Linked DNA regions of Homo sapiens: region 2 is linked to region 1. Evidence: fine-mapped expression QTL. Tissue or cell type: whole blood. Region 1 holds a variant in brackets; the other region holds the start of a gene. All regions are shown on one strand. Distances are from middle to middle.

The links. PIP is the estimated chance that this variant, and not a neighbour inherited with it, causes the effect.
Region 2: TCTN2 starts here. The variant in region 1 is fine-mapped to the expression of TCTN2 in whole blood (INTERVAL, PIP above 0.99).

Annotation. Positions count from the first base shown.
Region 1 is chr12:122,788,869-122,794,671 of GRCh38, forward strand. It overlaps CCDC62 (coiled-coil domain containing 62), which reads left to right. Exons shown (of 13, transcript NM_201435.5): 5 at 1-61; 6 at 3,152-3,253. Among named protein-coding and RNA genes, the nearest start is that of CCDC62, 17 kb to the left of the region's middle. RefSeq lists an enhancer at 1,035-1,588. The variant C/T (reference allele first, on the strand shown) is at 3,445.
Region 2 is chr12:123,668,669-123,674,185 of GRCh38, forward strand. It overlaps TCTN2 (tectonic family member 2), which reads left to right and starts at 2,445. Exons shown (of 18, transcript NM_024809.5): 1 at 2,445-2,654; 2 at 2,839-2,946; 3 at 3,388-3,464; 4 at 4,947-5,142. The coding sequence starts at 2,573.

The DNA of each region.
Region 1 (5,803 bases):
GAAAAGCAAGATTATAAGCAGAAATTGAAGGCACTTAAGATTGAAGTCAACAAACTAAAAGGTAAGGAAGAGACCTACATTTAAGATACAAATGTATTATCTTGGGAATATAGTTTTTCATCTGGGTTCACTTAATCTTATGCTTGAGAGTAGATCAATTCCTGGCCTTAGACCCTAACGTGAAATATCCATTTCATTTATATAGGATTATGCTGCAATTTGTGTCTTATAAGATATATAACAGAGTTGGGGAAAACTGCAGAATGTATCATATTTTAAAGTAATCCTGCCTTAGTTGAGGTGGCTGTACCATTAGCTATCGCTAATACATGCTTTGTGGCAGACAACATCAGTATCTCAGTGGCAGACAGTCGTAGCATTTATTAAACCCACATGTCTAGAGGCAAATGGGGGAGTTGGCTGACTGTGGTTGGGCCTCACTGAGCTTCCCATCTGGGCAGTTTTGGCTCACACATTTCATCGTCTTGCTATCAGGCTAGCCTGGGCATTTCTTCCCATGGTGAGGGCAGAAACTTCTGATTCTGAAATTAGGAATTTTTATTTTTGCCGATTTATTTATTTTCGACAGAATCTCACTCTGTCACCCAGGCTGGAGTGCGGTGGTGCAATCTTGGTTCACCACTGCCTCCACCTCCTGGGTTCAAGCTATTCTCCTGTCTCAGCTTCCCGAGTAGCTGGGATTACAGGCACCTACCACCATGCCTGGCTAATTTTTGGATGTTTAGTAGAGACAGAGTTTTGCCATGTTGGCCAGACTAGTCTGGAACTCCCGACCTCAGGTGAATCCCTCTGCCTTGGCCTCCCAAAGTGCTGAGATCTACAGGCGTGAGCCAACACACCCAGCCGATCTTTGCTGATTTAACTTAAAAGATTCAGCATTCAAAAATGTTGTCCTTATGATGCCTTGACCTATGGTTAGCCATAGGTCTTATCTCCATTTGTAGCTTCAGCTAAAACCATAATCGTATTATCATCCCCTTGACAGCAGGAACAGACTCTGCTTCTCTTTTTCAGTGTACTGTTAATAGCATGGCACAAGGGCTACACTCTAGGTATTTGGTATTTATTGAATGTTTATATACACCGAGGTAAAATATTCAAGTAGAAAGAAGTCTGTTCTGTCAATATTTATATACTAAAAACATTTTATAAATTCAATATTAAAACTTTTTTTTTTTTGAGATAGTGTCTTGCTCTGCTGCCCAGGCTGGAGTGCAATGGCGTGATCTCAGCTCACTGCAACCTCCACCTCCTGGGTTCAAGCAATTCTCCTGCCTCAGCCTCCTGAGTAGCTGGGATTACAGGTGGGTGCCACCATGCCCGGCTAATTTTTGTATTTTTAGTAGAGACAGGGTTTCATCATGTTGGTCAGGCTGGTCTCAAACTCCTGAGCTTGTGATCCACCTGCCTCAGCCTCCCAAAAGTGCTGGGATTACAGGCATGAGCCACCACACCCAGCTTAAAACTTTTTTTTTAGAAAAGAAAAATAGTGGCTGGGCATGATGGCTCACATCTGTAATCCTAGCACTTTGGGAGGCCAAAGCAGGCAGATTGCTTGAGGCCAGGACTTCAAGAAGACCAGCCTGGATAACATGGCAGAACCCTGTCTCTACAAAAAATTAGCCAGGCATGGTGGTGTGATCCTGTAGTCCCAGCTACTCGAGAGGCAAAGTGAAAGGATTTCTTGATCCCAGGAGGTGGAGGTTGCAGTGAGCCAAGATTGGCCACTACACTTCAGCCTGGGCAACAGAGCAAGATCCTGCCTCAAAAAAATAAAAAAAAAGAAGAGGAATTTTTATAGAGCTCAATCTCCAGCCCTCCCTCCCCTTCCTGGAGGTCCACAAGTGGGACTGCAGGTTCCAGCCCTGTCTTCACTTGGTGTTTCTGGTGGCTGTCTGCATCCTGAGGCCACGTAGGAGCTCCACCCTGAGTCACCTCGTTAGCATGTAGTCTGGTGTAATCAACTGACTCTTCATGAATGACAAAAGATGCTTCTGTCACTTAGGAAATTCCACAAGTTTTAGGAGCTCTGTTCTCCAGGAACAGAGGACAAAAACCACATCTATTTCTTCTTATACCACAGACATACTCAAGGAACAGAAGGAAAGGAGGGAACGGCGGTGGGGAGATGGGCAGGTCAGGTCATGCTGGGCTCTGCAGTTTGTGGTAATGGATTTGGATTTCATCCTCAGTGCAGTAGCAAGGCTTCTCACTGAGAAATGACACGAGCAGATTTTTATTTTTAGTTTTATTTATTTATTTATTTTTGAGACAGAATTTCACTCTTGTCGCCCAGGCTGGAGTGCAATGGCGCGATCTCAGCTCACTGCAACCCCCGCCTGCCTCTCAAGCAATTCTCCTGCCTCAGCCTTCTGAGTAGCTGGGATTACAGTCGCCCACCACCACACCCAGCTAATTTTTGTATTTTTAGTAGAGACGGGGTTTTACCAGGTTGGCCAGGCTGGTTTCGAACTCCTGACCTCAGGTGATCCACCCGCCTCAGCCTCCCAAAGTGTTGGGATTACAGGTGTGAGCCACTGCACTTGGCCTTTATTTTTATTTTACTTTACTTTTTTTTGAGATGGAGTCTCACTCTGTTGTCCAGGTTGAGTGCAGTGGCGTGATCTCAGCTCACTGCAACCTCTGCCACCTGGATTCAAGCGATTTTCCTGCCTCAGGCTCCTGAGTAGCTGGGATTGCAGGTGTGTGCCACCACACCCAGCTAATTTTTGTATATTTAGTAGAGACGGGGTTTCACCATGTTGGCCAGGCTGGTCTCGAACTCCTGGCCTCAAGTGGTTTGTCCGCCTTGGCCTCCCAAAGTGCTGGGATTATAGGCGTGAGCCACTGCGCTGGGCAGATTTTGATTTTTAAAAGATTGCTCTGTGTACACTGGGCTGTCACAGGAGAGGCAAGGCTGGTGCAGGGAGGTCAGTCAGATGAGAGCAAGCGAAGCCTCCAACCAGGGGTCCTTGCCAGGTGTGGAGATGTTGGCTGTGAAACAGATTTTGTCTATAGATCCATCAGGACCGGAAGGAGCCGCTGAGGATGTGAGAGTTAGGCATAGTGTGTATATGAGGACTGGAACCTAGTATTTATTTGAGGACTTTCTTTTTCTTCTGTTGTGAAGAGGACCTCAATGAAAAGACGACAGAAAATAATGAGCAACGAGAAGAGATCATTCGCCTCAAGCAAGAGAAAAGTTGCCTGCACGATGAATTGCTTTTTACTGGTAAAACAGATGATCGAATGTATTTGTAACCTAGACTTGCAATGATGACAGGCTGAAGGAATTATACCTCTCCCAAAATGGTTTTTTTTTTTTTTTTTTTGAGACAGGGTCTTTTTTGAGACAGGGTCTTGCTCTGTCACCCAGGCTGGAGTGCAGTGGTGCAATCTCGTCTGACTGCAACTTCTGCCTCC[C/T]GGGCCCAAGCGATTCTCCTGCCTCAGCCTCCTTAGTAGCTGGGGTTACTGGTATGAGCCACCACGCCCGGCTAAATTTTGTATATTTAGTAGAGACGGGGTTTCACCACATTGGTCAGGCTGGTCTTCTTGAACTCCTAACCTCAAGTGATCTACGGGCCTTGGCCTTCCAAAGTGCTGAGATTGCAGGCGTGAGCCCGGCTTTTTTATTTTTATTTTTTTCTGAGACAGAGTCTCACTCTGTCGCCCAGGCTGGAATGCAGTGGCATGATCTCGGCTCACTGCAACCTCTGCCTCCCAGGTTCAAGCAGTTCTCCTGCCTCAGCCTCCCAAGTAGCTGGGATTACAGGCGCATGCTACCATGCCCGGCTAATTTTTATATTTTTAGTAGAGACGGGGTTTCACCATGTTGGCCAGGCTGATCTCGAACTCTGGCCTCAGATAATCCGCCCGCCTCAGCCTCGCAAAGTGCTGGGATTACAGGCATGAGCCATCACGCCAGGCCTTTTTGTTTGTTTTTAACACCCTTTGTGGGACCGATGGTGGACCAAGCAGCGAGTGTTAATGCTGCCATCCCGTTCCCAGTCACTATTTCCTCTTCTGTAAAATGAGCTATTCTCCCTTCCAGCTTAAGCGTGTGACTCTGCTTCTTACTAAAAACATAACATAGATGCTCCTTGACTTACAGGGTTACATTCTGATAAACCCCTCGCAAGTCAAAAATGCATTTAATGAAGCCAACCCAGCCACCAGCATAGCTCAGCCTAGCCTGCCTTAAACATGCACAGAACACTCGCATTAGCCTGCATTTGGACGAAATCATCTCACACAAAGGCTGTTTTATAATAAATTGTTGAATATATCATGTAATTTACTGAAAGCGAAAAACAGAATGGTTGTATGGGTGCTCAGAGTAGGGGTTTTTTAATGAATGTGTACCCCTAGTAAAAGGGGGACTGAGGGTAGGTATCAGTAGACCAAAAAGTGTTCATATGATTTTCTCTTCGGAACTTTACCTCTAAATCAATGACTTTCCTAACACAAACCACTGAAAAGAAAGCCCAGTAGAATCATCTTGGCTGGCAGGGATGTCAACAAGCTCTCTATGTCAGTCATTCTCAGTTGGGAGTGGAGAAGTAGGCCTTCACCAGTGGAAACTCTGAGATACTGGGGGTAGGTAAGGAATATGGCAGGGAATGGAATGCAGTTTGTCTGTAAATTAATGGGAAAAAATTGAGGCTCATCACAGCCTCAAACTCCTGGACTCAAGGAATCCTCCCGCCTTGGCCTTCCTAGTAGCCTGGCTAAATTTTTAATTTTTTTGCAGAGAAGGGGTCTCACTATGTTGCCCAGGCTGGTCTCTAGCTCCTGGGATCAAGCGATCCCCTTGCCTCGGCCTCTCAAAATGCTGGGATTACAGGTGCGAGCCACCATGCCCGACCTAAGAAGTTTTAAGTGAAATGGAATTCTTAATTTTAATCTCTTGTGATTAAAGATCGGGGTGAAAGTGTGGTATTCTGCCACTAGAGGTCACTATTTTCACCATTTCTAGGATTGCTGCATCTGCAAGTAGTGATAACCCGTTAACGCTGCTAAAGATATCACATATTTGTAGCTTTACAGTTGCATTCAAACAGTCCTTGGACCAGCATTTGTACGCCAGGTGCCCTGCGATATGCTCAGAAGCTCACAGGCCCACAGAATTCACTACTATACAAATGCTATGCATAAAATGCTATGGGAGGTCAAAGGAAAGAACAAAGCTTAAAGGATACGTTAGTCTCTTTTCTTTTTGATTAATCACTTTTTACCCATGCACTCTACTATGTATTACTAAGTAAAATACATGGAATTTGTTAGCTAATATTATAATAAATCGATTTTGTGAAATATTTTTATCATATACTAAGCAGATTTCTTTACCCAGGCTGGAGTGCAGTGGTACAATCGCAGCTCACTGCAGCCTCAAACTCTGAGGCTCAAGTGATCCTCCCACCTCAGCCTCCCAGGTAGGTGGGACCACAGGCACATGCCATCACACATGCCTAATTTTTAAATTTTTTGTATGGATGAGGTTCCACTATGTTGCCCAGTCTGGTCTGGAACTGCTGGGCTCAAGAGATCCTCCTACCTCTGCCTCCCAAAGCCCCAAAGCGTTGGGATTACAGGCATGAGCCACCATGCCTGTCATCCTAAATTGATTCCTTAAACATCTTCTTAACTAAAGACAATCTCACACCATTGTCTGAAAACAATTTTTGTATGTTTTATTCTTCTTTTTCAAAATATAGACAATTGATAGATTTGCATGTTTCAATTATAAAAGTGAACAAAGCCTACAAAAGAATTTATTTATTTA
Region 2 (5,517 bases), 880 kb after region 1:
ATGGGTTTCTCTGTGTTGCCCAGGTTGGTCTTGAACTCCTGGCCTCAAGTGATCCATGTGCCTTTGCCACCCAAAGTGCAGGGATTACAGGCATAAGCCACCAAGCCCGGCCCAGAAATGTTTTCTTTTGGGAGGATTTATCTCTTAATCTTTACCGCTTGGCCTTGCCAACTTAATTTGCAGATTAATTCCCCCCAAAGACAGATGGGGAATAACAGAAATATTTAAGTGTTTGACAGCTTCCTCTTAGTAACGTTCTCCTAGGCTTCATTCCAAGATATCAAGAGAGGTAAACATTTTGCAGTCTTCCAGAGAGGAGCTGAGGTACACGGGAAAAGTTTCATGCTCATGTTACAACTGTAGTGACCCACAGTTTTTCAGGGAGTATAAGAAAAAGATAACACCCAGTGTCAGGCCCTTATAAAGCCTCAACTTTCAGAATCCTTTCACAATGTTAGATTTGCTGATCAATGAATATATAACTGAACATTAAGAGTAATAATGGGGCTGGGTACGGTGGCCCATACCTGTAATCCCAGCACTTTTAGAGGCCAAGGCAGGAGGATCACTTGAGCCCAGGAGTTTGAGACCAGCCTGGGCCACATGGTGAAACCCCGTCTCTATAAAAAATACAAAAATTAGCCGGGTGTGGTGGTGTATTGCCAGTTACTTGGGAGGCTGAGGTGGGAGGATCAGCTGAGCCCAGAAGTTTGAGGATGCAGTGAGCTATGATTGTGCCACTGCACCATTCCAGCCTGGGTGACAGAGTGAGACCCTGTCTCAAAAAGAAAAAAAAAAAAGACTAATAATGGCAAACATTTACTTGGCATTTACCGTCAGTCAGCCACAATGCTGAACACCATGATTGTCTCAGCTAAAGGATACACCACCTCTCTGATAGTTAACAAGTAACTGATCATTAACTGAGTGCTTACTGTATGCCAGCCATTGGTTTAACCTCATTAGATATGTTACCTCATTTCATCCTCACACAATCCCCAAGGAAGGATTATTATCATCCCTTTTTTATAGATGAGGAAGCTGAAACTTAGAGAGGTTGACTTGCCCAAAGTCACTTAACAGCTGAGAATATCTGTGGAGGGAAGGCGAAATCCCATGCCAGGCAGCCTGACCTCAGACCCTGCACTCTCAGTCCCCAAGCCGTGACAATATTTGAAATGTTCTGAGGCTACTGATATAAGAAAAAACAATTTTTTTCCAGACAGAATTTTGATTCTTTCACATCTGTCCTATTGCTGGGCAAAACCTCTTGTGTGTTCTGTGATTGGATCTGCTTTCAGAGTGCTGAGAGCTCTGTGCAGGGGAGAAAATCCTTCAAAAACCTAGGAGAATGATAATAAAAGCAATAGTGATAATAAATGATAATGATAAGAATTATAAAAATATAAATTTTATAAAATTATAACATATAAGTATAAAATTTACAAAATATATACTTATATAAAAGATAAATATATATAAGATAAAATATAAATACATATATATTTTATAAGATAAATAAATAAATAAATATATTTTTGAGACGGAGTCTGGCTCTGTCGCCCAGGTTTGAGTGCAGTGGTGCAATCGCGGCTCACTGCAACCTCCGCCTCCCAGATTCATACAATTCTCCTGCCTCAGCCTCCTGAGTAGCTGGGATAATAGGCGCCTGCCACCACGCCTGGCTAATTTTTTGTATTTTTAGTAGAGACGGGGTTTCACCATGTTGATCAGGCTGGTCTCAGACTCCTGACATTGTGATCCGCCCGCCTCGGCCTCCCAAATTGCTGGGATTACAGGCATGAGCCGCCAGACCCGGCCTATATGTATTTTATATATATCAAGTATGTATATCTGATATATATATATAAAACAAAGTATATCTATTTTGTAAATATATATTTATTTTATAAAAATATAAAATATAAATAATACATCATAAACGATAGTAAAGATAATAAACACAGCGCGGCAGCCCCATCCCCTTTTTCTACTCACCCCTAAAACAAATCCGTATAAAAATCAAGTTTATTAAGGAGCAAGTCCCACCCTTTTTATTTAGAAGCCAGTGTCTATAGGATCGCTCTTGGCTATTGTTGGATTAATTCCAGGGTAGGGGAAAACTCCAGTTTTTGAGCCGGACACGCACTCCTGCTTTTCAGGACCTTTTTAATTTTGATGTTTTCAACTTTTAGGCCCAGGGGTCCATGTACAGGTTGCTATATAGGTAAATTGCGTGTCACGGGGGTTGGGTGCACAGATTGTTTCGTCACCCAGGTACTAAGTGGAGCACCGGATAGGTAGTTTTTCAGCCCTCACTCTCCCCACCAGAGTCAAGCAGCAAAAATGCTAGGCCTTGTGGGCGGGGCCGGGGTGCCCGCTCTTGCCACTGGTCCAATCACAGCGCGGCGTTCCTCCTGGCCGGCCGCCGATTGGTGGTTGCCATAGCTCCGGGCGTTCGCTTGCAAGATGGCGGCGGCGGGGCAGTGGCTGCTGCGTTTTCGTGTCTGAGTCCTTCCTGGGTTCTAATGAGGGCGCGGTTCTGCTGTGCCCGGCCCGCGAGGTCTAAGGCATGGGCTTCCAGCCTCCGGCCGCTCTTCTTTTGAGGCTTTTCCTTCTGCAGGGCATCCTGAGGCTTCTGTGGGGGGACCTGGGTGTGTACGGCGCGGCAGTGACCTCGGTGGGCCGGGGCTGAGGGGACTGGGCGTTAAAAGGGCCAGACTTGGACTCCCCCGGGAGCTTCGGGAGTCGACAACGCCAAAGCAAGCCGCCACACACACCTTAGGCGGTGATTCTTCCACTGCTAACCCCTCCTTGTCCCCTTTCCTTCCCGCCTAGCTTTCATCCCTCCTTTTATCCGAATGTCCGGCCCTGCGGTCAGCGCGTCCCTGGTCGGAGACACCGAGGGTGTGACCGTGTCCCTGGCAGTGCTGCAGGACGAGGCGGGTAAAGTCCGGCCCTCTTTTGGGGAGGGTGGGGGTTGGACTGGATCCAGACCTCCCAAGGAGCCTGGAGAGGTGGCATCCTTGGGGCCCCCTGCCTCTGTTCTCTGCAAAGTCGCATGGGGAGAAAAGGATCGGGCGGCTGCTGTAGGCCAAAGAGGACAGACGGACAGGTTCGAAGAAAGCCTGAAATAATAATGGTTAGCATTCATTGAGCTAACATCGTGCATCATCCCATTTTCCTAGTAAGAACAGTAATATCTTTTCATCCCCTTTGACCAAGGAAGAAACAAGTTCAGAGAGGTTGTCACTGTCCCAGTGTCAAGCAGCTTGTAAAGGGCCCAATCTTAGGCTGTAATGTGAGTCCATCCTAGGCAGTCTGACTCAATGCACCCCCTGAGCTGCTGGACCTTGCTGCCTTTGCATGCTGGTCTTCTTTCTTTAGGAATATTGCCAATTCCGACGTGTGGAGTGCTGAACAATGAGACGGAAGACTGGAGCGTGACTGTGATCCCCGGTGCGGTAAGGCCAGAAGTAAACCTTCTCTGTAGCCTGTGAAGAGGCCCCCAGCTAGGGTTTCTGCAGTGCTCTCTTTATTTAACAAGGCATGGCTTTCTCCATGCTCTCAACAATCATGAAATTGTGGGCTGTTGGATCTGGTAGACACTTATCCAGCCCACGGGTTCCTTACCCTGGGGTTAGGAGTCCTTGGATGTATTTCAGTGGGTCTGTGAACTCTATGAAATTGTATGTAAAGTTCTGTGTGTATGTGCATTTTTCTGATGAGAGGGTCACCAGTTTCCTTTAGATCATCAAATGGGTCAGTGATTCAAAAAAGCTTTATGCCAGGCATCGTGGCTCACGCCTGTACTCATAGCGCTTTGGGAGATTGAGGCGGGAGGATTGCTTGAGCCCAGGAGTTCCAGACCAGCCTGTAACATAGCGAGACCTCGTCTCTACAAAACAATTAAAAAAAAAATTAGGTGGGTGGCGTACACCTACAGTCCCAGATACTTGGAGGGGGGTGGGGTAGCTGAGGCAAGAGGATTATTTGAGCCCAGGAGTTCAGGGCTGCAGAGAGCTATGATCGCACCACTGCACTTCATCCAGCCTGGGCAACAGAGCAAGACCCTGTCTCTTAAAAAAAAAGAAAAAGCTGGTCAGGCGCGGTGGCTCACGCCTGTAATCCTAGCACTTTGGGAGGCCGAGGAGGGCGGATCATCTGAGGTCAGGAGTTCAAGACCAGTCTGGCCAACATGGTGAAACCCATCTCTACTAAAAATACAAAAATTAGCTGGGCGTGATGGCGGGTGCCTGTAATCTCAGCTACTTTGGAGGCTGAGGCAGGAGAATCACTTGAACCCGGGAGGCAGAGATTGCAGTGAGCCGAGATCACGCCACTGCACTCCAGCTTGGGTGATGAGCGAGACTCCGTCTCAAAAAAAAAAGCTTCATAACCACTGATCTTGCCCAACTCTGAGCTTATGTGTAAGGATACTCAAACCTGGAGAGATTAAGCATCTTCTATTTAATAAGTGTTTATTGGATACCTAGTATATGCAACATCAATTCTGGAGAGAAAAGGACAGGAAAGACAAGCTCTGCTTGTACCCCAGGAGTGAACATGTACATGTCTAAAGTCATTCTGGGATAAACTGAGGATTGTTTTCATTGACTTTTTTTGTGTATTTACTCTTCCACTGATAGGATGATAAAGAAACTAAAAAGGTGTACAATAAACTGAGTTTATTTATCAGATCTGTGTTTAGCTTTCTCTAAGTATCCCGAAGTTGTTTGCTTTTATGTTAAGGAAGAAGAATCAGGGCTTGCATGTTACCATAGGTTTATGGGGGGGAACTGAAGATAACTGTGTCATCTCTGTATACATTTCCCTTTTATAAAATGAACGGAGGCTGATGTGTACTTTTATTGTGTTTTCCATTATGTATTCTTATAGACCCTGTTTTGAGTCACTTTAAAAATACAGCAATGTTTTCCTTTCAGAAGGTGTTGGAAGTGACAGTGAGGTGGAAGAGAGGTCTGGACTGGTGTTCCTCCAATGAGACAGATTCCTTCTCAGAGTCCCCCTGTATCCTCCAGACCCTTCTGGTTTCAGCATCTCATAATTCATCCTGTTCAGCACATCTACTCATTCAAGTGGAAATTTATGCCAACTCTTCTCTGACCCATAATGCCTCAGGCAAGTGAAGTCTTTGACTGTCAAAACTTTCATGTTGTTCCCAGCTACTTAGGAGGAAGAGGTAGGAGGATTGCTTGAGCCCGGGAGGTTGATGCTATAAATGAGCTGCCCGGGAGGTTAATGCTACAAATGAGCTGTGATCGCGCCACTGCGTTCCAGCCAGGGTGACAGAGTGGGACCCTGTCTCAAAAAAAACCAAAAACAAAAACAAAAAAAGAAAAATTTGTGTCAAGCTTACCTGTTTGATTATAAGTGTATGCCATGCAATTTGTAAAGTATACTTCACTTGAGTCTGTCTTGCTTTTCTAAACTTATTTTTCTTTTGTTTAGTTTTCTTTTAAGAAATTTCATTTTGTACTATTTTATTTAACATTT